2 separate regions of the Homo sapiens genome follow, and region 2 is linked to region 1. The links come from fine-mapping of genetic effects on gene expression. A gene starts in region 1. The other region holds a variant in brackets. All regions are shown on one strand. Distances are between the middles of the regions. Region 1 holds the start of LLGL1 (LLGL scribble cell polarity complex component 1). Region 2 overlaps TOP3A (DNA topoisomerase III alpha).

What was found.
Region 2: its variant is fine-mapped to the expression of LLGL1 in whole blood (INTERVAL, PIP above 0.99).

What each region holds. Positions count from the first base shown.
Region 1 is chr17:18,216,570-18,232,396 of GRCh38, forward strand. It overlaps LLGL1 (LLGL scribble cell polarity complex component 1), which reads left to right and starts at 9,066. Exons shown (of 23, transcript NM_004140.4): 1 at 9,066-9,194; 2 at 13,372-13,469. The coding sequence starts at 9,114. RefSeq lists enhancers at 1,012-1,111, 13,950-14,785, 14,786-15,619 and silencers at 8,728-9,207, 9,358-9,527.
Region 2 is chr17:18,273,341-18,284,320 of GRCh38, forward strand. TOP3A (DNA topoisomerase III alpha) reads right to left here. Exons shown (of 19, transcript NM_004618.5): 16 at 9,358-9,501; 17 at 7,196-7,318; 18 at 4,335-5,017; 19 at 1-1,640. The coding sequence ends at 1,462. Among named protein-coding and RNA genes, the nearest start is that of MIEF2, 18 kb to the left of the region's middle. The variant C/CA (reference allele first, on the strand shown) is at 3,845.

The sequences.
Region 1 (15,827 bases):
TAGTGTAATTTTAATTTTATATAATTAATTTTTAATGACTTTAACAACTGACTCACAAAAGTTCTTGAAAATTTGCCATTTGGCTCTTGCAGAGGGCTCCAGCACACCACTAGATTCCCATAGAGAGTTTGAGCAGAGGAGTGATGTGAACAGATGTAGGATCACTGGTGCTGCTGTGCAGAGGACTGTCAAAATCAATAAGAAAACCACTTTCTTAGCTGAGTGCAGTGGCTCACGCCTGTAGTTCCAGCACTTTGGGAGGCTGAGGTGGGTGGATCACCTGAGGTCAGGAGTTCAAAACTAGCCTGGCCAACATGGTGAAACCCTGTGTCTACTGAAAATACAAAAATTAGCCAGCCTGGTGGTGGGCGCCTGTAATCCCAGCTGCTCGGAAGGCTGAGGCAGGAGAATTGTTTGAACCCGGGAGGCAGAGGTTGCAGTGAGCTGTGATCGTGCCATTGCACTCCAGCCTGGACGACAAGAGTGAAACTGTCTAAAAGAGAGAGGAGAGAGAAAGAGGAGAGAGAGAGAAAAGAAGAAAGAAAAGAAGAGAAAGAGAAAGAAAAGAAAAGGAAAGAAAGGAAGGCCTGGCACGGTGGCTTACACCTGTAATCCCAGCACTTTGGGAGACCGAGGTGGGCGGATCACGAGGTCAAGATATCGAGACCATCCTGGCCAACCTGGTGAAACCCTGTCTCTACTAAAAATACAAAAAAAATTAGCCGGGCATGGTGGCAGGCACCTGTAATCCCAGCTACTTGGGAAGCTGAGGCAGGAGAATCGCTTGAACCCGGGAGGCGGAGGTTGCAGTGAGCCGAGATCGCGCCATTGCACTCCAGCCTGGGTGACAAAGTGAGACTCCGTCCCCCCCCCCAAAAAAAAAAAAAAGAAAGAAAAGAAAAAAGAAAATCCACTGTCTTTGTGAGAGATGGAAAACTAAGGGCTCGGGCAGTGTCAGGGCTGGGGTCCTCCAGTTAGGTGTGAGGCGCTTGCTGCCGCAGTTCCTCCTGTGTCCACAGTGTGGCAGCATAGCCTGAGTGATGGTGCTTCAGAGTAGAGGGCAAGGGCCAGCAGCTGTCCCTTGGTTTGGATGGGGAACTGAGGTCCCCAGAGACCCCCGAACCTGCCAGAGGTTACTCAGAGCCAATAACTTAGGTTCCCCACTGCTTCTGCCCTTCTCAGCCAGGGATCTCAGGGCTAGTAGGGTTTTCCTCCCACTTCCTTACTAATCCTAGTAGGTGTGGAGGGGCACTGGGACCTGTGGGTCAAGCAGATGCCATCAGGTCCACCCCCAGGCCACACATAACAGCAGTCCCAGCCTGGGCCCCACGCTACCTCTCTTGGCCCCAGCTCCTTGGAGAGTTCTAGACATCTTTGCAAGTGCCAGTACTCTGCCTCAGGCAGCTCTCTTCCATGCTACCTTCTCTGGCCCCCTCCCAGGCTTTTCAGGGGTGCCTTTGGGCTCCCCCACCCAGACCGGGGCCTCCTTTGGCACTGCCTAGAGTGTACTCTGTGGTCCCAGTGTTTCCACTCCAGGCTGGGAAACAGGGCCCTAACTCCCACCTTCTCCTGCACTCTCATTGAGTGAGGCCATTAACTTACTGTCTCATTTAATTCTCGCTGCAACCTCTGAGACGTCATGAGGGGACTAGGTTTACATCCTGATTCTGCAATATACTAGCTGTGTGACTTTGGGCAAGTTAACCTCTCTGGCCTCAGTTTCTTCCTTTGTAAAATGGGCATAAGATTAAAGGAATAACTAGTGCCTGGCACAGACTAAGTGCTCAGTGTTAATAAATGGTAGCAATTAATATTAGCCCGCATTTCGCAGATGAGAAAACAGGCCCAGAGAGGGAAAGTGGCAGAGGCAGGATTAGCACTTGGGGCACCAGAGAGAAGTGAAACACAAAGCCCCACCTTCCAACAGGTCTGTGGTAATGTCCACATACCCAGCCCCTTGGGCCTCAATCCTGACAGTCCTTGCAGGGAGCAGGTGTGCCCAGATCCCCGTTCCTGTAGCCCAGCATGAGCCAAGAAAAGCATACTCAGGATCCAGGCTCAGCGAGTGTCAGGGCTGAGAGTCCTGCCTCCAGAGAAGGAGCACTCGGTTAGAGGTCCAGGGACTCATATATTATTCACCTGTCACCTTGGGCAGGTCACTTCTCTGAACCTCAGCTTCCTCCCTTGTATAAAACAAGGACAGAGTAGGTCAGCCCCAACACTCCCCCTACCTGTCTGGCCTTTCTTTCATGGAGGCACACAACACTATTCACTCTCTGTAGATTGAGGAGGCCCTAAATCCATTGCTCCCTTCTGTCTGGACCTAAAGGACACAAGACCTTATTAAGCTTCAGCTTCATTTGCATACCACATGGGATGAGGTATTCACTCCTCCCTGGCTTGGGCTGGTCTGCTGACCCTGTCTTGGAGTCTCAGTAAGCCCACCCTTTCTCCCACTCCCTCATCTCTCTCCTTCCATCCTGGGCCCTGCCTAGCTCTGTCCCAACCTAGACCACTCCAGGAATTTTCCAGCCTGCCAGATCTGGCCCCCCAGGAGCCACTAGGAAGAAGTTGAGTCCGTGGTTTGGGCAGCTCGAGAGGGTCATGGCCTCAGCTGGGATCTGGGCCAGCTTCTGAAAGCCAGGGCCTGCCTTCTTCAGTCAGACTCTTGGTTTTCCTCCCACTTCCTTACTGACCCTAATCTACCTCCCTTGGAGCTTCCCCACTTGTCGCTCCCTGAGATCACCCTTTCTCTTTCCCTCTGCAGAGGAGTGACCAAGTCACTTCTCTACACGTATCTTCCATTTACTGTCTATAAAACAGGGTTGTTCTGGTATCTATGAGGATTCAGGGAGATATGCACAGATATAGCCTTTACTGGGGCACCTACGTCCGAAGACACCTTCAATGCATGCCATCCTGTTCACCTACCTGCCTACTTACATCCCATCAACCACCAAACCGCCACTTCTGTGGACTTAACTCCTGAACAGTATGGATTATTTGTTGTTGTTTTTGTTTGTTTTCTTTTTTTTTTTTTGAGACAGCGTCTCACTCTTGCCCAATCTGGAGTGCAGTGGTGCGATCTTGGCTCACTACAACCTCCGCCTCCCGGGTTCAAGCGATTCTCCTGCCTCAGTCTCTCAAGTAGCTGGAATTACATGCATGCGCCACCACACCTGGCTAATTTTTATATTTTTATTTTTATTTATTTTGTTATTTATTTATTTTTTGAAATGGAGTTTCACTCATGTTGCCGAGGCTGGAGTGCAATATCTTGGCTCACTGCAACCTCTGCCTCCTAGGTTCATGCAATTCTCCTGCCTCTGCCTCCAGGGTAGCTGGGATTACAGGCATGTGCCATACACCTGGCTAATTTTTTGTATTTTTAGTAGAGACAGGGTTTCACCGTGTTAGCCGGGATGGTCTCGATATCCCAACCTCAGGTGATCCACCAGCCTTGGCCTCCAAAAGTGCTGGGATTACAGGCGTGAGCGAGTGGGCCCGGCAATTTTTGTATTTTTAGTAGAGACAGCGTTTCACCATATTGGCCAGGCTGGACTCAAACTCCTGGCCTCAAGTGATCTGCCCACCTTGGCCTCCCAAAGTGCTGGGATTACAGGTGTGAACCACCGTGCCCGGCCTCAGATCTTTAATCTATTTTTTAAAATTGTTTTCTTTGAGACGGAGTCTCACTCTGTCACCCAGGCTGGAGTGCAGTGGCGTGATCTCAGCTTACTGCAACCTCTGCCTCCTGGGTTCAAGTGATTCTCCTGCCTCAGCCTCCTGAGCATTACAGGTATGCACCATCACACCTGACTAATGTTTTTTTTTTTTTGTATTTTTAGTAGAGATGAGGTTTCACCATGTTGGTCAGGCTAGTCTCGAATTCCTGACCTCGTATTCCACCTGCTTCAGCCTCCCAAAGTGCTGGGATTACAGGCGTGAGCCACTGTGCCCGGCTTTAATCTGTTGTTTTAAATGTGTCGAGCATTAATTATGTGCCAGGCGCTATTCTAGGCACAGCTGGTTCACTAGGAACAAACCCTGCTGGGTCCTGTGCTCAACTCTTTTTTTGAGACAGAGTCTCGCTCTGTCGCCCAGGCCGGAGTGCAGTGGCACTGATCTCGGCTCACTGCAACTGCTGCCTCCTGGGTTCAAGTGATTCTCCTGCCTCAGCCTGCCAAGTAGCTGGGACTACAGGTCTGTGCCATCACGCCCGGCTAATTTTTTGTATTTTTAGTAGAGATGGGTTTTCACCGTGTTAGCCAGGATGGTCTTTATCTCCTGACCTCGTGATCTGCCCTCCTCGGCCTCCCAAAGTGCTGGGATTACAGGCGTGAGTCACCGCGCCCGGCCTCAAATCTTGTTTTGAGTCATCTCATTTAGTCCTTACTGCATTTTACAGATGAGGAAATTGAGGCCCAGGGTGGACTCATGGTTTAGCTGAGGTCACCCAATGAGCAAGGGGATGTCTTGGGATTTGAAGGCGGACTCCAGAGCTGGGTGAGAGCCCTATGGGAGCCTAGGAGGAGGTGAGAGGAGGGGGACACCCCACCAAGGAAATGCCGAGAAGGCAGCCCCCCCCTAGCCTGAGATTGACCTGAGGCTGGGAGGCTGAAGGAAGAACCAGCTTCCCCTGCCAGTGCTGCTGACTCAGGAACCCTCCTGCCTCCCCCAGCTCCAAGGATGGGTGGGCACCTGAGATGACCGGGACCCTGTGTTCAGTTGTTTGTCTGGGCTCCCCTGACCCTCAGTTTCTTGTTCTAGCAATGAGCTGACTTGGCATGGCCATCTGTGCCAATCTCTGCCCCCTGGGGCTGCTGTGGTAATCATAGGCCTGGGCTGCCCTGACTTGCGGGGGAGGGGACAGAAAAACAGTCATTAGTGTCCCAGACCCTCCCAGCCTGGGAGATGGTGCCCTCTCTAGTGCCATTTCTGAACCCTGCCTGATGGTATGGGTAGGCTGGGCCTACATGCCCAGGCCTCAGTTTACCCATTTGTATCTGTATACCCATTTGACCCCTCTTAACCTGATCAGATGGGGCCAAGCTAGGCCTCAGGGTCATTTGGGAAAGGAGCTGGTTTAAAATCCAGATTCTGGGGCCCCACTCGCCTGTCATTCACATTTGCAGGACCTAGAATCTGAATTAACAAGTGTGTGTGTGTTGTGGGGTGGGGGTACTGACACTTTGCGAATCCGTTTGCCATGAGACTCTTCCCTGCCTATCCCCTGGCTCCTTCCACTAGGTACACTCCTTACCCATTACAACCCATGTGCACTGTCCTCTCCCAGCAGGACACTGACCCTGGGCCAGATGCCTCTTCTGGGCTCCCACAGCCCCAGTGCATGCCCCATCATAGGACGGTGAGCTATGGTTAGCTGTGGTCTCGACTCAGTTCTGTTGCCCTGCTCCCCAAAAAACTGTGAGATAGGGGTTGGGAAAGGCATGGCTGCTTACTGCCTAATAACCAAGTCCCATTGAAAAATGGGGACTGCTGGCTGGGTGCGGTGGCTCACACCTGTAATCCCAGCACTTTGGGAGGCCAAGGCAGGCAGATCACGAGGTCAGGAGATCGAGACCATCCTGGTTAACACGGTGAAAACCCGTCTCTGCTAAAAATACAAAAAATTAGCTGGGCATGGTGGCACAGACCTATAGTCCCAGCTACTCAGGAGGCTGAGGCAGGAGAATCGCTTGAACCTGGGAGGCAAAGGTTGCAGTGAGCTGAGATTGTACCACTGCACTCCAGCCTGGGCGACCGAGTGAAACTCTGTCTCTCTGTCTCAAAAAAAAGAAAAAGAAAAAGAAAAATGGAGATTGGGTGTCGGGTGCAACGGCTCATGCCTGTAATCCCAGCACTTTGGGAGGCCAAGGCAGGCGGATCATCTGAGGTCAGGAGTTCAAGACCAGCCTGGTCAACATGGTGAAACCCGGTCTCTACTAAAAATACAAAAATTAGCTGAGTGTGGTGGCGCATGCCTATAGTCCGAGCTACTTGGGAGGCTGAGGCAGGAGAATCACTTGAACCTGGGAGGCAGAGGCTGCAGTGAGCCAAGATAGTGCTACTGTACTGCAATCTGGGTAACACAGCAAGACTCCATCTCAAAAAAAAAAAAAGAAAAAAGAAAAGAAAAAGGAAAAAAAGGCTACTCCATAGGCAGAGTTGTCCTTTGTTTTTTTGAGATGGATTTTCACTCTTGTTGCCTAGGCTGGAGTGCAGTGGTGCAATCTCGGCTCACTGAAACCTCCGCCCGCCGGGTTCAAGCAATTTTCCTGCCTCAGCCTCCCGAGTAGCTGGGATTACAGGCATGTGCCACCATGCCCGGCTAATTTGGTATTTTTAGTAGAGATGGGGTTCCTCCATGTTGGTCAGGCTGGTCTCAAACTCCTGACCTCAGGTGATCCACCTACCTCGGCTTCCCAGAGTGCCAGGATTACAGGCGTGAGCCACCGTGCCCGGCCAAGTTGCCTATTTTTGTGGTCATTTCCTGATGATATGCTAAACGTGGATTATTCATATCTCCCCTTTTTAGACCATATAGAGTAACTTCATGACGTTGCCATGACATTTGTAAACTGTCATGGCGCTAATGGGAGTGTAGCAGTGAGGATGTCCAGAGGTCATTCTCGTGGCCATCTTGGTTTTGGTGGGTTTTGGCCAGCTTCTTTACTGCAATCTGTTCTATCAGCAACGTCTTTATGACCTGTATTTTGTGCCGACCCCCTCCTAGCTCATCCTGTGACTTAGAATGCCTTAACCATCTGGGAATGCAGCCCAGTAGGTCTCAGCCTCATTTTACCCACCTCCTATTCAAGATGGAGTTGCTCTGGTTCATATTACCCTGACACATTTAATCTCCACAACAACCCTTTGAGGTAAATACTAATATTATCACCATTTTTACTGATGAGGAAACTGAGGCACAGAGAATTTGAGGTAACTTGTTCCAGGTCACATAGCTTCCAAATGGTAAAGTGGGAATGTGAATCAACGTTTTTTTTTTGTTTGTTTGTTTGTTTTTTTCATTTATCACGCTTGTTGCCCAGGCTGGAGAGCAAATGATCTCGGCTCACTGAAAGCTCCACCTCCTGGGTTCAAGCGATTCTCCTGCCTCAGCCTCCTAAGTAGCTGGGACTACAGGCACCTGCCACCATGCCCGGCTATTTTTTGTATTTTTAGTAGAGACTGGGTTTTTCCCAAACTCCTGACCTCAAGTGATTTGCCCGCCTCAGCCTCCCAAAGCGCTGGGATTACAGGTGTGAGCCACTGCTCCTGGCCTTTTTTTCGAGATGGTCTTGCTCTGTTGCCCAGGCTGGAGTGCAGTGGCACGATCACAGCTCACAGCAGCCTCAACCTCCTGGGCTCAAGCCATCCTCCTGCCTCAACCTCCTGAGTAGCTGGAATTTACAGCTGGGCCACCATGCCCAGCTAATTAAAAAAATATTTATTTATTTTTTTTCTGTAGAGATGAGATCTCACCCTACTGCTCAGTCAGGTCTCAAACTCCTGGGGTCAAGAGATCCTCCCTCCAAGGCCTCCCAAAGTGCTAGGACTACAGGCATGAGCCACCGCGCCCAGCCAGCAACTTCTTAACACTTCCTGTGTGAGGCAGGGCAGGGACCAGAACCCAGACCTCTGAGCTGTCCCTGCTGCCTGTGCTGGTGTGGCGTGGCCAGTGGCCAAAGGGGTCTCATCCTCCTCAGTCCAGCAGCTCTGCCAACAACTAACAGCCTTTGGCTGATGGTCTCAGCTTCCTCATTTGGGATGGGTAATATTGTTGGCTCCCTCGTAGAGCTACTGACAGCACTAAGTCAGCTGAAACCAGGAAAGGGCTTTGAACAGCGCCTGCCCCGCAGTAGACACTTAGGGGCTTTACTGTCGTCATTCTCCCTCCTCTCACCTCCTCACTCACTCCTGGGCCCTCTTCCGGATCCAGCCCCAAATACGGGGAAGGGCTGAACACCGCCGGCCTGGCGTGGGTGGAGGGGGACAGCCAGGCCCCAAGGCTTGGCAGCCGCCTCGGGCTCAGAGGTCAGCTCCTGCTCCCTGGACACAGCTGGTGGGGTTGGGGCCTGTCCTACCTGCCCCACCTAAGCTTCTAGGACCTCCCGCAGCCCCAGCCCTGAGCCAGGCGGCCTATCCTCAGCCTGGAAGGAAAGGTTCAGCCTCGAGGCCATTGTCCAGATGAGAAAAGGCCTGGGAGGTGGGTGGGGACAGGCAGACGGCCCCTGAGAGTAGGGGCAGGGCTAAGCTTTGTTCAGACGCTGTTCTCTGCGGGGGGAGGTCCTTCCCCCATCTCCGTAAAGCTCCAATCCAACCCCAGAACAGTCCCAAATGCCACCTCCTGGGGATCCCGTCTCTTTCTTTGGCTAAGAAAGAATCCCCTGTGCTGTGACACAGAGCCTTTTGCGTTGGGTCCTGAAAGATGTGTAGGAGTTCCCCAGGGGCTGGGGGTGAGGAAAGAATTCCTGACTACAAAGCCAAGGCAAAAGCACGGCGGTGGGAGGTGCTCTGACAGAGCGGGGAACAGACGAAATGGAGTTCTGTGAAATTGGTAAAATATAAACTTGGCAATCACTTGACCAATGGTGTAGATGGGGAAACTGAGGCGCAGAGGGGCCAGGGAGTTGTTCCAGTCAGAGCTGTCTTGGCTTTCGGAACAGGGCTGCCCCATTACATGAGTGGGCACGTCGCTCGCTCTCTGGGAGGAGGAAAAAGTCTCCTCCAAGCCCGGGAACGTGCGCCAATCCCCCTCCAAAGCGCTTCCCCAGCCGCCCGCGCTGGAGCCCCGGCTCATGGACTACAAGTCCCGGCAGGCCCCGCGCCGCGGCGCATGCTAGGCGGGCGTCCCTTCGCGAGCCCGGCCGAGCCCGGGGGCCCAGTTCACCATTGTCTGGCCAACAGGGGCGGGGCGGGCGGCACGGCGGGCTCGCTCACTGGTCGGGCGGCGCGTCCGTCGCGCCCGGCGCCCACCCCCGTGCAGGCCCGGCCCCGCGCGCCCGCGCCCGGGCCGCCTGGCGCCCCGCCCGCGCCTTAGGACCCGCGGGGCCGCGCGGCGCATCCTGCGGGCGGCGGCGGCGGGCGAGGCGCCTGCAGCCGGGCGCAAGATGATGAAGTTTCGGTTCCGGCGGCAGGGCGCCGACCCGCAGCGCGAGAAGCTCAAGCAGGAGCTTTTCGCCTTCAACAAGGTGCGGCGGCGGCCCGGGCCCGGGCTCGGGCGGGAGGGGGCGGGACGGGGGCCTGGGCTGGGGGCCCGGGGTCGGAGCCACGTCGGGCCCGGGGGGCGGGGGCTGGCATGCAGCGCGGCGCGGGGCGGGGCCGGGCCGGGCCGCGCACCCCCTCGGCGGGCCCCGCTCTGGCTCGGACTCTGGGTGGGTCTGGGTCTCCGGCCGACTTTCCGTGTCTGCTCCCCGAGTCTCTGCGGGCCGCTCTGGCCCTGGCTCTGCCAGTCTGTGTGTGTGGGGGTCTGTCTCTGAGACTCTTTGCCTGTCTCTGGGTCTCTGTCCCTCTTTCTCCGCCGCTGACCGGCTGTCTCGCCCCAGTTGTGCCTGTGTGTGTGGTGGGGGTGTCTCTGCCTCTGCCCCTTCCTATCTCTGCCTGTCTCCCTTTATCTCTCTGCCTCTCATTTCTCTTGCTGCCTGTGCGTCTCTGAGTCTTCTTTGCCTGTCTCTCCCTGCGTGTCTCTCTCTCTGTCTCTGTGGAGTCTCTCGACCTCTGTCGCTCACTTCTGTCTCTTTATCCTTTTTCTTAGGGGCTCCATTGCGTCCCTGCTCGGCCCTTGGGACAGCCCTGGGGCCCGGTTTGTTTTGTGCTTTGGCACCCAGGAGGGTGAGAGAGTTAGTGGGGGCGAGGCAGCTGTGGGGGGTGCGGCTGGGAAATCCCTTCAAGGAGCCTCTCCTTCCTTCCCCCACTGCTCCAGGCTCTGCCTTGCCCTGCTCTGCCCTGCCCGGGGCTCCGAGTCCAGGGGACATGCCTGGCTGTGTACTACACTGCACTTCGCATCGTGGGGCCTCAGTTTCCCTAGCTGTGAAATGAGGCTACTTTTCTCCATACTGTGGGCCCTGGCTCCCTCTGCCACATGGGCCAGCTGTCCTGCCTTTCTGCACCAAGGTGGAGTGAGGTGGAGGCTTTTCCTTCCTTTCCCGGAGTGGGACACTAGGGGCCAGGGAAAGGGGCCGCCTCAGCCCCCGCCTCCCTCTGCACTGATGTTAGAGCAGGGCCTCAGCCCACTCCTGGCTCACTGCTCTGGGGACGTTGGTTTTGTCCTCATTCTTACCCCAGAGCCCACTGATGGCAGAGCCTCTCAGTGCTCTTCGAAATTAGAGTTATCTTCAAAATACAGGTGAGAAAATTGAGGTTCTGAGAGGGGTGACGGCTTGCCCGGAGTCAGAGTGAGCTGCACCAATATCTTTCTTGAGTTCTTGTGTCAGTGGGGTTGGATTTTAGCCTTGAGGGGCAGGGATTTTTCCAAGGGGCTGCTGTGGTCCTGGGCCAGTGTTGTGCCAGGCGCCCTGGGCTGCCTTGAGGAGACACTTGTCTTGGAGGAGGCTCTGGGACGGCTGGACCTGGAGTAGTGGAGGCACTGGGATGTCTCAGGGTTTCCCTGCCTAGGTCTGCAGTGATTGCCGATGAGAGCTGCCAGGACCCTCACACGGTGGCTGAGAACCTGCTAGGAACCTGAGAGGGGCCCAGAAGGGAAGCTGGTGCTCCGTGGTCCCCAGATGGCACCTATTTTCTGTGCCGGGGAGGCTGTGAGGGTGAGGTGAGAGGAGAATGGCCCTTCAGGGAAAGGCAGCAACAGGCACAGGGCTAAATGTCACTTTTTTTTTTTTGAAATGGGGTCTCACTCTCACCCAGGCTGGAGTGCAGTGGCACAATCACAGTCCACTGCAGCCTCACAACTCCCTGGCTCAGGTGATCCTCCCATCTCAGCCTCCTGAAGCTGGGACTACAGGCTCGTGTCACCATGCCCGGCTAGTTTTTGTATTTTTTGTAGAGATGGGGTTTCACCATGTTGCCCAGGCTGGTCTCGAACTCCTGGGTTCAAGCTATCTATCCATCCATGTTGGCTTCCCAAAGTGCTAGGATTACAGACATGAGCTGCCATGCCTGGCCTAAATGTCATTTCTTCAGCCAGTGAATTGGGGTGTGCAGTGGGGGCTGGAGACAGATGGGGGTGAAGCTCAGCCCACTCTGGCTAGCCTTGGGGTGGCGGAAAGTAAGGGCCCTCCGCTGAGGATGAAGCGTGGGCAGCAGTGGTGGAAAGTGGGGTGGTCTTGGGGAAGGGACTTAGTCACCTAAGTGGGTAATAGGTGATCGCTAGGGAATAGGCCCCTGATTCCTGAGCTTAGGGGGTGGGAGACAGGTCAGGAGTGAGCAGGGACTTTGGACTCTGAGTCTTGGGTTCAAATCCCAGTCCAGCCCACACATCGCCTGTGGAATGTGCCTTCTCTGTTAATACTGAGCCCCACTGTGTGTGAGGTCTCCAAGGTGCTGGGGACAACAGTAGTTACCAAAAAGGACAAATACCTGTTAACTCAGGTGGCTGATATAGTTGTGCAGGAGACAGTGAAAAGCCAAAACAAAAAAGTAAAATAGACTGTAGTTGGGATGGTAGCCAGTGCTGTGGATCAAATAAAGTAGGGCGAGGGGGTGAGAGGTGTGGCCAGGGCGGCTGCTGCAGCCAGGGTGGCCTTGGGAGGCTTCTCTGAGGAGATTACTCCTGAGCGACAGGAAGTGCTGGAGGAAGTGCGTTCCAGGCAGAGGGGCAGTAGGTGCAAAGGCCCTGAGGCACAAGCCTCCCTTAGCTGGGAGCCCCAGGAGGATCCTGAGCAGGGGAGGGACAAGGATCTGGCTGTGGCTTTCATAGGATCCCTCTGGCCTCTGTGGGAACAGACTGTAGTGAGTACCAATCCAGGCACGTGACGGTGGGGCCTGGAGCAGGGAGGGAGGTGACTTCTGTGTGTTTTGAAACTGAGTTGATGGGGCTCAGAAATGGACTGGACGTGGGGTATGAGGGAAGCAGATGCTGGACAGTGCATGTAACCTCCTTTCCTCGTTTGTAAAATGGGAAGGCTGTGGGGATTTGCGATGCAGTGTCCCGTCTCTGGACCCTGGTTGTAGCGAGGGACTGGCTAGACAAGGTCAGGTGCAGCAAGGGCGTGGTATTATTGGTGGGAGAGAGAAGCCCCAGCCAAATCGCCAACTCTGTCCTTAGGTGGGCTTACTGTCCCAAGGGCCCAGATGAGAGACTGAAGCTTGGAGAGTACTGAGTCTTGGAGAGTACTGTGACTTGCCCAAGGCCAGACAGCTAGGCCGTGACCAAACCAGCTGCCCAGAGGGCTCAGTCCCCACCTGGATGGGCAGAGGCAGGCAGGGAGGGAGGTTCGCGTTACAGGCTGGGAACTGGGGTTTCTTACAAATGTGCATCTTCCTGAGGCAGTGGGTCAGGAATTACCAGTGGTAAAAGTGAAAAATAAATAACAACAACAAGATAAAAGGAGTTACCAGTGGCCCACGTGGGTGTCCTGCACTGGTGTTCAGGATGGGGCTGGAGCTCAGCTGTGCAGGCTTCCCAGGGAGGGCACAGCCAGGCCAAAGACAGGAGACTGGTGCAGAAAGGGTGTGCTGTGAAAGGGGCAGGGGAGCGGGTGGGGAGCTGTTTCATCGACACTCTGGGCACACAGACCCCCTTAACACCATCTCCGCCCCTGATGGTTATGGGAGTCATGTTGCCCAGCTGTTGGCAGGTGGGGAGGTGGGAGGATGCCTTCGGGGTCCAGGCAGAAAGCTACCCCTCTCTGGGCCTCTGTCTCCCTGTGTCTGGGAGGAGTCAAAAGCCTCTGCCTAGCTGATCCTGGATGTTGTCCCTTGACCTCTGACCTCCACTCAGGCCTGTGTTTGGGGAGTGTCATGGTCATCTTGCGGGACTCCTCCGCAAGCTTTAGTCTGTGCCTCTAAAAATGGGGTGCAGAGCCCTTCATGGAGCAGGTGGGGCCTCATCAGTGCCTGCACCTCTGTGAGCCTTGCTTCACCTGTTTGTTGCTGGAGCCTCCATGCAGTGGGGCCCACATGAGCCTGTGTGCATTGAGGGGCACAGGGGCTTGGCAAAGGGCGGGCCTCTGTGGACTATGCACGCGGTACAGTCATGGTGGAGGCTAGGGGTTTAGCCACCTCCCCACCAACTGGAGGCATGATAACCCATTTCACAGTTGAGGACGCTGAGGCACAGAGCAAGTAGACCTGCCTCCTACCCCCAGTGTGTCAGCTGCAGACCCTGGAGGCTGCCTTGGGGTGGGCCTCAGGGTGGGCCATGGCAGAGGTGCCTGGGAGTGCTTACCCCCAGCAGCCCTCCCCTCCTTGCAGACTGTGGAGCATGGCTTCCCCAATCAGCCCAGCGCCCTGGCCTTCGACCCGGAACTTCGCATCATGGCCATCGGCACCAGGTCTGGGGCTGTCAAGATGTATCCTTTGCAGGACAGGTGTTCAGGGTCTGTTCAGGACCACCTGCCTGTAGTTCCCTGTGCTCTGGGGTCCCAGTCTTGGCAGTGTCCAGCTCGAGAGGAGGACAGAGGTGCTCTGATGGGCAGTAGTGGGGGCTTCTGCGGAGGTTGGCGTGGCTTCTGTACCTGAGACAACTGTGCAGAGATGATGGGGTCCTTTTGCTGAGAGACGGGTGGTGGGGGGTCAGTTTGCAGTAGCACAGCTGTCCCTTGCTACGTGTCAGCCAGCCAGTTACCTAGGCGACCCTGCCATCGTCCCAGCAACTCTGGGGAGGCCAGGCAGAAGGCTGGGCTATGATACCCATGGAGGGTGGCAGGTGGGCTGGGGGCCCTGGTGAGCTGATGCACACATGTGTGAATGTGAAGACACATGTGTTCAGCAAAGGGGCCTGGGGGCAGTGCCAGGCTCGGCATGGTGAGCACAGCACGGCCCCCACCTGGATACTGGCTGCTGCACAATGGGCTGTGTGAGCCACACAAAGCGGGCATTTTCCCTGCAGGCCTGGGGTGGGGGTGGGGGCAGGCCGGCAGCTCAGTGTCTCCTTGCCAGCCCTGGAGAATCCCACCCCAACTGCTCTTGGGGAAGCCGAGGTGCCAGGGTCTGGCTGATGGCGGCTTGGTGAGGGGTGCTGACCCCTACCCCTCCTGTGTGGCCTTCTGGGTTTCAGTATCCTGGTTTCAGACATCAGTTCCCAGAAAATGTGTCAGTGCTGGGAAAGGGGAGGGTGTGGGATGGGGGTCTCCTCACCCCAGGACTGGGGGCACTGATCAGGCAGGGATGGGACTCTGAGCCTGTGGTTTGTGAGCTCTTTGCCTACTCTGGGGAGTGTGGATGGGCTGAGATGTCCCCTTCTCTCCCATGGCCCCAGCGGCCTCTGTTGGTGAGTGTGGCAGTGCTCTGGGCCCCACATGCTCCGCTGCCTGGCCTGCTGCTCCCACTCCTGTGGGTGCTGCGCTGCGTGCGCACATGTGTCCCTGCAGCCTTCAGGTGTCCCTCCTGTGTTGGGGTCTCCAGTGCACTTGTCCTCAGGCTCAAAAAGAACCTGAAGTGCAGATGAGGAGACTGAGCCTCAGAAAGGAGGCTGGAGCCCGGGGTCCTCTTCCCTTTTTCCCCTGACTGCCACTGCCTGGAGCCCCTTGGGTTGGGAAACTGAGGCTGGAGAGGGCCAGCCCTGGTCACTAGAAGCTGCCCCTCCCCCTGCCAGGCCAGCCCCATCTCCTTGACGACCCTGGTTCCCGCCCAGCTGCTCCTGTCCCCTCTTTTGTCCCTTCTTCGGAGTTTCTCGCCAGGCTCCTGTAGGGAATCTGAGCTCAAGCTCCAGGCAACGGCTCCTGTGTTGTCACCGGGGCAACGTTGCTGACTCCTCCCTGCACCCTCTGTCATGGGGCCCCCTCAGGCCCTGCTGTCCACCATCAGCCCTGGAGTTGCCGGGACTCAGGCACTGACACTGGGCACTTCAAGCAGGTCATCCACCCCCTCCAAGTCTGTGTGCTCATCTGTGAAATGGGCAGGCTGGAGTCTCTCCTCCCTCATGATGGCAGTTGTTGGCTGCCTGCTTTGGAGGGAGGTGGGTTTTTTTTGTTTTGTTTTGTTTTTTTGAGATGGAGTCTTGCTCTTTGTTGCCCAGGCTGGAGTGCAGTCGCACAGTTTTGGCTCACTGCAACCTTTGCCTCCCGGGTTCAAGCAGTTCTCTGCCTCAGCCTCCCAAATAGCTGGGATTACAGGTGCCTGCCAGCATGCCCGGCTAATTTTTGCGTTTTTAGTAGAGACGAGGTTTCACCATCTTGGCCAGGCTGGTCCTCAACTCCTGACCTTGTGATCTACCTGCCTCGGCCTCCCAAAGTGCTGGGATTACAGGAGCGAGCCACCGTGCCCAGAGGAGGTGGGTTTTCTTACCCATGGCTGAAGTTTGGCCTGAAGCTGTGGGAAAAGGCAGCCTGGACTCTTCTGCCCCCTGGCTTTCTTGTCCAGGCCTGGCCTTGCACCTCTGGCCTGCCTGATCCCATCCGGCAAGGCGCAGCTCCCAGAACCCATAGACACACGGAGCTGAAGTGGAGCGGAGCCCCATCCTCTCACCAGGCTGAGGCCAAGCCTGCTGGGTGTGTTTATTCTCACTTGATCTGCAACAGTCCTGTAAAGTGGGAGTCACTGGCCCAATTTACGGGAAGTGAAGGTCCTATAGCAGCACCTGACTTGCAGGAGTGAGTGGAGCCTGCACACTGATCTTGGGGATACTGTAGGGGTGCAGAGTGGGAGCTTTAGGGAGGGGGCCTCCGTTCTTCAGGGAGGACTCCTGGATGGTCAGGCCCATGCCGGGG
Region 2 (10,980 bases), 54 kb after region 1:
AAAAAGTGGAAGATGGAAAGTTAGTGATCTGAATCTGAACCTTTCATTAGACATCTCTGCTCTGAGGGACCATCTGTGGGGTGAGAAGAAATTGGGCTCAGTGCTTACCATGTGGAAAGGGAGGAAGGGCTCTCCACATGGGACACAAGGGACAGCCATGAAGGACAGAGGCTGACGAGACCTCCCAGGGTGAGCTCCTTCCAGCACTGGCTGGTACCTGTTGCTTCTGCAAATGTTCCCCAGACCCTCTGCACTCTCGCAGGTCAGAGTAAAAAAAGGTTGGATTCTTTCATTTTAAAAAAAGTTTGAGACAGGGTCTTACTCTGTCACCCAGGCTGGAGTGCAGTGGTGTGATCATGGCTTGCTGCAGCCTCAAACTCTTGGGTTCAAAGGATCCTCCCACTTCAGCCTCCTGAGCAGCTGAACTAAAGACGTGTACAACTGTGCTTGTTATATTTTTAAAAATAGAGACAAGGTCTAACTATGTTGCCCAGGCTGGTCTTGAACTCCTGATCTCAAGCAATCCTCCAGCCTTGGCCTCCCTAAGTGCTGGATTACAGGTGTGAGCCTCCACGCCCTGCCGGGGTTGGATTCTTTTTATTTTTTTAAATTTTTAAATTTTTTTTGAGACTGAGTCTCGCTCTGTCGTCCAGTGGCGCAATCTCAGCTAACTGCAACCTCCGCCTCCCGGGTTCAAGCAATTCTCCTGCCTCAGCCTCCTGAGTAGCCGGGTCTACAGGCGCACACCGCCACACCTGGCTAATTTTTTGTATTTTAGTAGAGACAGGGTTTCACCATGTTGCCCTGGCTGGTCTCGAACTCCTGAGCTCAGGCAATCCGCCCCCCACAGCCTCCCAAAGTGCTGGGATTACAGGCATGAGCCACTGCACCCGGCCTGGGTTCTTTATTAAAGCAATGAATTCTGGATGTCCTGGCTTAACTAGATTAAGAGGGAATGAAGCTTCTTCTGAAGGATCAGTGTTACCACAGCCATTTCCTTGCATTACACCGTCCTTCTCAGGACGTCTATGAGAAGCCCTGGGCAGCCTGGACAGGGACTGCCCCATGAGTGCTGGTGGCTCACTTGGGGCTTTCTGCAGGTGAAGGAAGCAGCCCTGGGAGCTTCTTCCTTTGGCACACAGTGGGCTTCAGCTGGGACTGCACCAATCCTCTGCTAACAGCAACCATCCTTGGGGGGTCCGAGGGAGCAGCTGCGTGACTTTTCAGCAGTGGCTATGGTCACTCCTGAGGCCTGGGAAGAGGGTCACTGTCCAGCAGAGCTGGCCTGCTCCAGAGTGATCTGGACCTTGTGCCCCTTAACACAAGAAGGCCCGACTCCAAAGGCCAACACTGTCCTCTAAGTTTCCAGGACACTAAATGGCCACTTGGTCCTGGTTAACTCATTTCTAAACACAAAGGGGACAGGTCTGAGAAAGTGGCGTTCTCTACCCTACCCTGAGCTCATCTGTTCTGAGGACAAAAGGGACGGGTGTGTCCAGGCTGGTGGCAAAGGCTGCATTTCCGGGGTTTCTTTGCTGTGGACCCCATGTCTGAGGAACTGGCCCGGGGCCTTTTGCTTCTGGCTTCCGACTCCAGGGTTCTTCCTCTGTCTCCTGTCCAGGACGGGGCTCCAGAAGTCCCTGTCGGGAGAGTCAGGGGAGGGGTGAGGTTAGAACTGACATGCAGAAGTGGCAAGTCCTGAACACGGTGGCTCATGCCTGTAATCCCAGCACTTTAGGAAGCTGAGGGAGGAGGATTGCTTGAGCCCAGGAGTTCAAGATCAGCCTGGGCAACATGGTGAAACCTTGTCTTTAAAAAATGCAAAAATTAGCCAGGTGTGGTGTATGCCTGTGGTCACAGCTACTCGGGAGGATGCCTGAGCCTGGGAGGCTACAGTGAGCTGTGATCACACCACTGCACTCCAGCCTGGGCAACAGAGCAAGACCCTGTCTCAAAAAAAAAAAAAAAAAAAAAAAGAGCAGCAGACGATAAGGCTGAACCAACTTTTTTTTTTTTTTTTTTTTTTTTTGAGATGGAGTCTTCGCTCTGTCACCCAGGCTGGAGTGTGGAGTGCAGTGGCGTGATCTCCACTCACTGCAAGCTCCACCTCCCGGGTTCACGCCATTCTCCTGCCTCAGCCTCCCGAGTAGCTGGGACTACAGGCACCCGCCACCACGCCCGGCTACTTTATTTTTTGTATTTTTAGTAGAGACGGGTTTCATCATGTTAGCCAGGATGGTCTCGATCTCCTAACCTTGTGATCCGCCCGCCTTGGCCTCCCGAAGTGCTGGGATTACAGGCGTGAGCCACCGTGCCCGGCCTTTTTTTTTTGAGGTGGAGTCTGGCTCTGTCGCCTAGGCTGGAATGCAGTGGTGCAATCTTGGCTCACTGCAAGCTCCGCCTCCCGGGTTCACGCCATTGTCCTGTCTCAGCCTCCCGAGAGTAGCTGGGACTACAGGGACCGACCACCATGCCCGGCTAATTGTTTGTATTTTTAGTAGAGACGGGGTTTCACTGTGTTAGCCAGGATGGTCTCGATCTCCTGACCTCGTGATCCACCCGCCTCGGCCTCCCAAAGTGCTGGGATTACAGGCATGAGCCACCGCGCCCGACCGGCTGAATCAGTTTTTATACAGCCATGTACACCCCACCAGCCAGCCTCCCTTCACACTGTGTCCAACTCTGTAAGGTTGAGGTGCGATGTGCCTGCTGCCTTATGTTACCTGACACCTCTCCCTCAAGAATCCTAAGCTTTGGAGACATTGTCCCACACTCACTTGGTAAGTGGACTTTCATGCCGGCCCTTTTTACAGAGGCAGAAACCCAAGCAAGCTGGCCTGTGTGGTAGGGTGGGAAAGACAAGCAGCCTATGACCGGCAACCTGCGGCCCACCTCCATGCAGGAAAGTCCAGCTCTGGATCCCTTCCTGTCCCCTCAACAGGCCTTTCCAGACCAGCTGCTCATTTACCCAGGACAGTCAGTCAGCCAGCCTGGAGGTCAGATACCATGTCCTTCCAAGTGGGGAGACAAGAGGCCAGACTGCATCTCACTTCAAATGTGGGTCTCTCACTGCAATGGCCATCTCTGGGCCCCATTAGCACTGGTAGCCAGTTCCAAGTCCCACAGTTTTTACCAAACCTCTGGTTTCTTTCTGTGCATGCCGGGCTAGTGACACATGTGTAAGAATCATAGTCTGAGACTAAACTCCTTTCTAAAACAGGAACCCTATGAATGTAGGCAGGGACCATCTTGTTGAGCAAACTTGAGGCAGAGAGGCTAAGTCATTTGTTCAAGGTTATACTGCTGAGCTTTGGAACCAGATTTGCTCAACTCCAAAGCTCCCACTAGGCCTTTGGGTCATTCTCAGCTACTTAAGCTCTGTTGTGCACTGGAGCAGGAGGAACCATTCAAAGTGCCTCCACGTACACCATTCAACTTGATGCAATGTCCAGGTGCCACTTCTCATGACACCCAGTTCCCGGACATTGGCCCAAGCTGTGTCACCCTGGGCAGGTTCCTAAATATCATCGGGGTTGGCATCTTCATCTGAAGAAATGAGGCTGGGCCAGGCACGGTGGCTCACGCCTGTAATCCCAGCACTTTGAGAGGCCAAGGCAGGTGGATCACCTGAGGTGGAGTTCGAGACCAGCCTAACCAACAGGGTGAAACCCCCGTCTCTACTAAAAATACAAAATTAGCTGTGCGTGGTGGTGCATGCCTGTAATCCCAGCTACCTGGGAGGCTGAGGCAGGAGAATCATTTGAACCTGGGAGGTGGAAGTTGCAGTGAACCAAGATTGCACCATTGCACTCCAGTCTGGGCAACAAGAGCAAAACTCAGTCTC[C/CA]AAAAAAAAAAAAAAAAAAAAAGAAATGAGGCTGATGCTTATGGTCTGCCAAGGGTCACGACAGCTGCAAGGGCACATGGCCATGGGACTGGGAAGGCCTATGTACTCATCCTGGTGTCTGTTGCTATGGGACCCTGAGCAATACCCACTTCATGTGTCTGGGTCTCACCTTTCTCACTTATAAGTAAAATTGTGATCATAATGCTTACCCAATGAGGATGGAAGATGCACAGGAAGTATACTTAGCATAGTGCCAGGCATAGGGCAAGTGACACCATTACTGGTAGCTACCCTTTAATTTGGAATGAGGACTGTACAATTATCACCTTGCTGAAAGTGATCAAGTGAGGAAAAGTGAGGTGCAAGGCAGCCCAGGTGCCCCTCCCAATCCCACCATGACCCTGCCTTGCCTTCTTTCTGCTGTCCCCAGTCTCTGAGGTAAACACCTGAAAACTGAAGGCAGGGATTCCCATGCCCCTCCCTGCCTCACCTGGAGCGGTGTTCTCATCGACCCACTGGAAAAAGCCACACTGCTGCTCTCTCGGCTTGGCACATGTGTGGAACTGGCGCCCCTTGTTGGGTCCATCCTTCTGCACAGTCCGTGTGACGGAGGGCTGGCTGCAAAGGCAGGATGTGCCACTACCACTGCCATCACCAGGGTTGCCAAACCCACCTAGGTGGATCCCTGGGCCTGGTGGGCATCCCAGGGAGGCGCCCAGGGGTCTATATGCCAAGGCAGGAGGCCCTCCTGCTCCCGGATTGGGGCTGTCTGCCCACAGGAAGAAGTTGCAGCTACCTCCGTTGCACTTAAAGAACTGCCGGCCCCGGTTGGGGCCCTCCTTACGGACAGTGAGCAGCACAGCCTCCTGGCCACAGTTGCAGGTCACAGAATTGCTTTCACCAGCAGCCGTGGGTGGTGGGAGGGTCTGGGCCAGAGCCTTTGAGGACCCAGTCTGTCTGCTGTCAGCAGGCTGGGGGTGCTGGCTGTTGTCCATCCTGTTCAGGGACTGGTTAGCCTGCAGGCGGCCAGAGGGCTGGCTAGCCCTGGGGGGGCCCCCTGAAAATCTCAGGTCCAGGATCTCCCTCAGGGTGTCGTCGCATCCGCCGATGCAGCAAACAAACTCCAGAGGCATGGTCGGGGGAAGGCTACCGCGCTTAAACTTTAACTTTAACCTAGTGAGGCCAGAAGATGAGAAAAAACATTAACAACCAGATGCCAGCTTCTCCTTAGTCCAGTGAGGGCTGCTTTAGCCCTAGGCCTCTCTCCACCATTCCTTATGCATCAGGAAGCCCACACAAGTCCCCTGTGAGGCCCTCTATCAGCCCACCACAAGCCCCCACCAGTCATCACAGGAGTGGACAGTGGGAAACAGTGCAGATGAAATCTAAGATCCCAGTAATTCACTAAAATAAAAACACCTCTGAGAAGTCCCATGTCTCTGTATCAGCAGTTCTCCAAGTGTGGTTCCAGGGTGCCTGAGCCCTTTCAAGGAGAGTGCAAAACTCTTTTATAGGCCAGGTGTGGTGGCTCAAACCTGTAATCCCAGCACTTTGGGAGGCTGAGGCGGGCGGATCACAAAATCAAGAGATTGAGACCATCCTGACCAACATGGTGAAACCCCATCTCTACCAAAAATACAAAAATTAGCTGGGCATGGTGGCACGCGCCTGTAGTCCCAGCTACTCGGGAGGCTGAGGCAGGAGAACCTCTTGAACCTGGGAGTCAGAGGTTGCAGTGAGCCAAGATTGTGCCACTGCACTCCAGCCTGGTGACAGAGCAAGACTCTGTCTCAAAAAAAATTCTAAGAGGTTATGTCTATTTTGCTCTTATTCTTCCATGTGTATACAACGGAGTTTCCTGGAGGTTCCAGCACATGCAATGACTCAGCAGGCTGACTGCAGAAGCAGATACGGGAATCCAGCTCTCTTCTATTAAGCCAGACATACAAATTGCAAAATGTAAAACAATGTCATTAATGTCATTATTATTTTGCTTTTGAAAATAGGTATTTTATTACCCTAAAAAACAAGTTATTTACAGTAGTATGCAATGCATTTACTAGAAATAAATTATTAAAATTTTTTTTTTTGAGACAGAGTATCATTCTGTCGCCCAGGCTGGTGTGCAGTGGTGCAATCTCGGCTCACTGAAAGTTCTGCCTCCTGGGTTCACGCCATTCTCCTGCCTCAGCCTGCCGAGTAGCTGGGACTACAGGCGCCCACCAGTACGCCTGGCTGATTTTTTGTATTTTTAGTAGAGACGGGGTTTCACCATGTTAGCCAGGATGGTCTCGATCTCCTGACCTCGTGATCCACCCACCTCGGCCTCCCAAAGTGTTGGGATTACAGGCGTGAGCCACCACGCCTGGCCATTTTTTGTATTTTTAGTAGAGACAGTGTCTCACCATGTTAGCCAGGATGGTCTCGATCTCCTGTCCTCGTGATCCGCCTGTCTCGGCCTCCCAAAATGCTGGGATTACAGGCCTGAGCCACCAGGCTCGGCCTATTCATTTATTTCTAGAGACAGGGTCTGGCTCTGTCATTCCAGGCTGGAGAGCAGTGGTGAAATCATGGCTCACTACAGCCTAGACCTCTAGGATCAAGCGATCCTCCTGCCTCAGCCTCCTGACCAGCTTGGCCTATAGGCATATGTCACCACATCTGGCTAATTTAAAATTTTTTTTGGCCAGGTGCAGTGGCTCACATCTATAATCCCAGCACTTTGGGAGGCCAAGGTGGGTGGATCACTTGGGGCCAGGAGTTCGAGACCAGCCTGGCCAACATGGTGAAACCCTGTCTCTACTAAAAATACAAAAAGTGGTCAGGCATAGTGGTGCATGCCTGTAATCCCAGCTACTCAGGACGCTGAGGCAGAAGAATCACTTCAACCCAGAAGGCGGAGGTTGCAGTGAGTCAAGACTGCGCCACTGCACTTCAGCCTGGGCAACCCAGCGAGACTGTCTTAAAAAAAATTTTTTTTTAAATAAAAATTTTTTTTTTTAAAGAGATGGGGTCTTGCTACGTAGCCCAAGCTTGGATGTTGTATTTAATATGTGAATAATTTCCTAAGCCTGGTGTAGCAATCATCTATCTGGAGAGGGCAGGGAAAGAGCCCTTCATGGTTCTTTGCCCATGGCCCACTCCAAACAGGGTCATACCTGCCAAAGCAGTGACAGCATGGAACACAACAGAACTGGACCAGCCCTGCTGAACTGGCTGCTGCAGAACACAGCTACGCCCCTGCAGGGCCTGAGTGGAATCCCCGACACTCCTCTCTGGGTTCTGGCAGGAGCAAGGGAAAGATGGTGTACACACTCCAGAGGAGGCACCTGACTCAGGTGCCCAGCTCACCTGTACACAGGGTGTGGCTGACAAACTGGACACACACTGCTGTCCCTGCTGGCCTCCAGCACCGAGTCAGGAAGCCACACAGCTGAGCGACACTCTGGGAAACCCATGCAGCTGAGGTAGAACCTGGGGACAAAGTGCCATGTCAGATGATAGGAGTGCAGGAGATGCTCTCCGCTGTTGGCCATCAGCTAAGGCAGCCTTTCCTCAGCTGCCCGAGGACAACATTCCCTTTTCTGGATGACACTTAACTGGATACACAAGCACTCATATTGAATTGATTGGGAAAAATGAGCCTTCTCACATCCCAAAAGCACAAAGCAGCTATTGCTGGCCCTGCTTTCTATTTAGAAAACCAACAACCAACCAAGCTGACGCCAGGGGCTCTGTGCTGTGCACTCACACATTCTTGCCTTTCTGCCTCGTGCCAAGTCTGGGCAGTGTCAGGGGCCCCCTCAGTTTGCATGTGAGTAAACAGTGGCTTGGTGTGGCCTGGAAACCTGCCCAGAGACATGCATGCATGTGTGGATGGGAGCCAGGAATGGAAACCCATCTGTTTGTGACAAAGCCTCACCTGCAACATCTACACCCCACCCACTGCCCATCCATCCCATCCCGGTCTCTCCTGGCCAATGTTTTTCAACACCTTGCAGTCATGAAACGTTAGGGTTTGACTAGCTAATATGCATGTGATTTACAAATTCCTCATGAGTGTGCCTGGGTACACTATGAAGGAAAAAAAAGCCCCGAACTCCAATCATTTAAATAAGAAATTTACAATCTCAGAAATGGAAATTAACAGATAAATCATGGAGTGGCAAATCCCACAAGATAATCTCCTGACCTTCTGGAGTAACTCAGAGAAGCATTACAAAAGAATAACAGAAGAACAAACGAATAACTAAAGAATAATAATAATTCTCCAATTCAGAGAATTGGAGAATTCAGAGCTAAAACAAAAGTAGTTATTCTCTCTCCTTATATTCCAATGAGTACTAATCCAATAACCTACCGATAGCAAGGAAAACCCATCGACAGCATTTATTAAGTGCTGAAATATACGCCCAGTCATTGGGCTAAGCCTAGAGTGGCACTGGCTTCTGTCTGTGAGTGACGCGAGCCCTGACACCTGCTTCCAGGTCTGGCCCATAGACCTCTTGTTTCTGAGAGCCTGGGTGGCCTTCTCTTCACTTGGGCCAGCCAGGTTAATGATGGCTGGAGGTGAGGAGTTGAGAAACCTCCTTTCTTATTCAGCAGCAAGGAGCACAGCAGTCCCAGGTGGGCCAGGCAGGATGGAAAAAGGCAGTGAAAACCCGGTTTCAAACTCTGCTGCCCACCACGGCTGCTTGACTCCAAGCAAGCACCTCAGCCCTCTAAGCTGCATAAAAATCCCTGCCTTGCAGGGTAGTTAGGAGAATGGGATGAGGTAATGCTTACAGAGCACCACCCTGCATTACACCAGTGAGGGACGGCACCTGATGAATGATGGCTGCCACCCCTCCACCTCGTCTTTCCCCGTGAACTTCCTCCAGTGGCCAGCCACTGGCTCCAACAACCTGATGTGAAGCTAAATTGCCCACTCAGATCTACTATATTTAAAGCGAAAAGGGAGTTGAGATTTTCAGGCCCCATTCAGAACTAAAACTAGGAGAGAACAAAAGTAGTATCTGCTGAGTATCTACAACACATCAGGCAATGTGCTATATAGTCCTGACCATTTTCACCAAATCCTCACCCTTAACACAGCCTTGTAAGTACTGACATTTTATAAAAGAAGAAATTGGGGTTCAGAGCAGGTAAGTAACTTGCTTCAGGCCACACCACTTATATGCGGCATAAGTGGCATTTGAACCCAGACCCACCTAGATCTGAAGCTCATGCTCCTCCATGTGTTACACATTGGGTATATGATGTCCTATCCACAGGGGACAAAAAAACCCCACTATCATTCAGTTTCTCACCTGCTCTGAATTCCCATAGTGCTTTACACCTCAAAGGCCTGATCCCACCCTGCTATGCTTTTAGGCCAACACCTTGCCTGCAGGTTGGCAACAACAGGCCTGTCTTGAAAGATTCCATGGAGTGAAATGGCAGGGTCTTTCGAGCTACGGCTGACACCGCAGGTGCTGGGGAGCAGAGGTGGGGGCAGAAGGCAGCGCACTCACCCGCCATTCTTCTTGGTCTTAAGGACCATGTCCTTGTTGCACTGTGGGCACTTCCTGATGGGCTCTGGCATGGCTGGGTAGATATCTTCTTGCTGGGCCAACTCTGTCCCATTCCCAAAGTACTGGGCCAAGGCCTCGTCCAATCTGAAGAAAAGGCAAAGACAGACACCCATCAGCCAGCAATCGCTGCAAAGGCACCTACAACACTCTTACATGCACACAACAGGCGTGACCTTGAGAACCAGCTGGTCAGTGAGCCGCAGGCCTCCTGCAGAGAACAGACGGCAGACAGAAGACTGAGCTCACCATGGGCCCTGGTGCCGAACCAACTCTTGGGAGGAGAGTCCAGATACAGGCAGATGCTTCTGCTTGTCACCAGCCCACATTAAAAAGTAAAACTGGGCCAAATGTGGTGGCTCACGCCTGTAATCCCAGGCCGAGGCGGGCGGATCACCTGAGGTTGTAATTTCGAGACCAGCCTGACCAACATGGTGAAACCCCGTCTCTACTAAAAATACAAAATTAGCCAGGCATGGTGGCGCATGCCTGTAATCCAAGCTACTCAGGAGGCTGAGGCAGGAGAATCGCTTGAACCCAGGAGGCAGAGGTTGTGGTGAGCCAAGATCACGCCATTGCACCCTAGCCTGGGCAACAAGAGCGAAACTCCATCTCAAAAAAAAAAAGTAAAACTGCACAGGGTCCATGTACAAACTCCAGGAGTGTCTGTCTGTATTAAGTCTAAACTAGCTCATGCCTGCCTTTTCACAACTGGCATGGGGTACTCTAAAGAACAGAAAATAACAAACTGTTATCTTCTATTACAGTCTCACAACACACATCAGACACCAGATGTATGGGAGTTTTCCCCATACACCAAGCAACTCTCCCGCCACACACCAGTTGGACATCCTCTAATTCAATTCAATTCTGACACTATGCACCTGGAGATCCATCTAACGGTTAAGGGCTCAGTCCCAGAAGACTGCTGCCCCAAATTCCCTCAGATGTCAGTCACAAATCCCAGGCTGTGACCTGTGCTTCTGACTGACTGGCTATAAACTGGGGTTCCTCAGACCCCCTCCTTGGTTTGATTCTCAATAGAGTGGCTCACAGAGCTCAGGGAAACACTTTACTTATGCTTACCCGTTAATTACAAAGGATCCAGGTGAATACCCAGATGGAAGCAATGCACAGGGCAAGGGATGTGGGGAAGGGGTAGCTTCCATGCCCTCTCCCAAACACCCACCCTCCAGGAGTCTTTACCTGTTTAGCTATTTGGATGTGCCCCAAACCCAATTGTTTGATTTGTTTTTGTTGTTGTTGAAGAAGTCTCACTCTGTTGCCCAAGCTGGACTGCAGTGGGGCAATCTCGGCTCATTGCAACCTCCACCTTCCGGGTTCAAGCAGTTCTCCTGCCTCAGCCTCCCAGGTAGCTGGGACTACAGGTACGCACCACCATGCCTGGCTAATTTTTGTATTTTTTTTTTTTTTTTTTAGCAGAGAAAGGGGTTTCACTGTGTTGGCCAGGCTGGTCTTGAACTCCTGACCTTGTGATCTACCCGCCTCGGCCTCCCAAAGTGCTGGGATTACAGGCGTGAGCCACCGTGCCTGACCCTTGTTTGG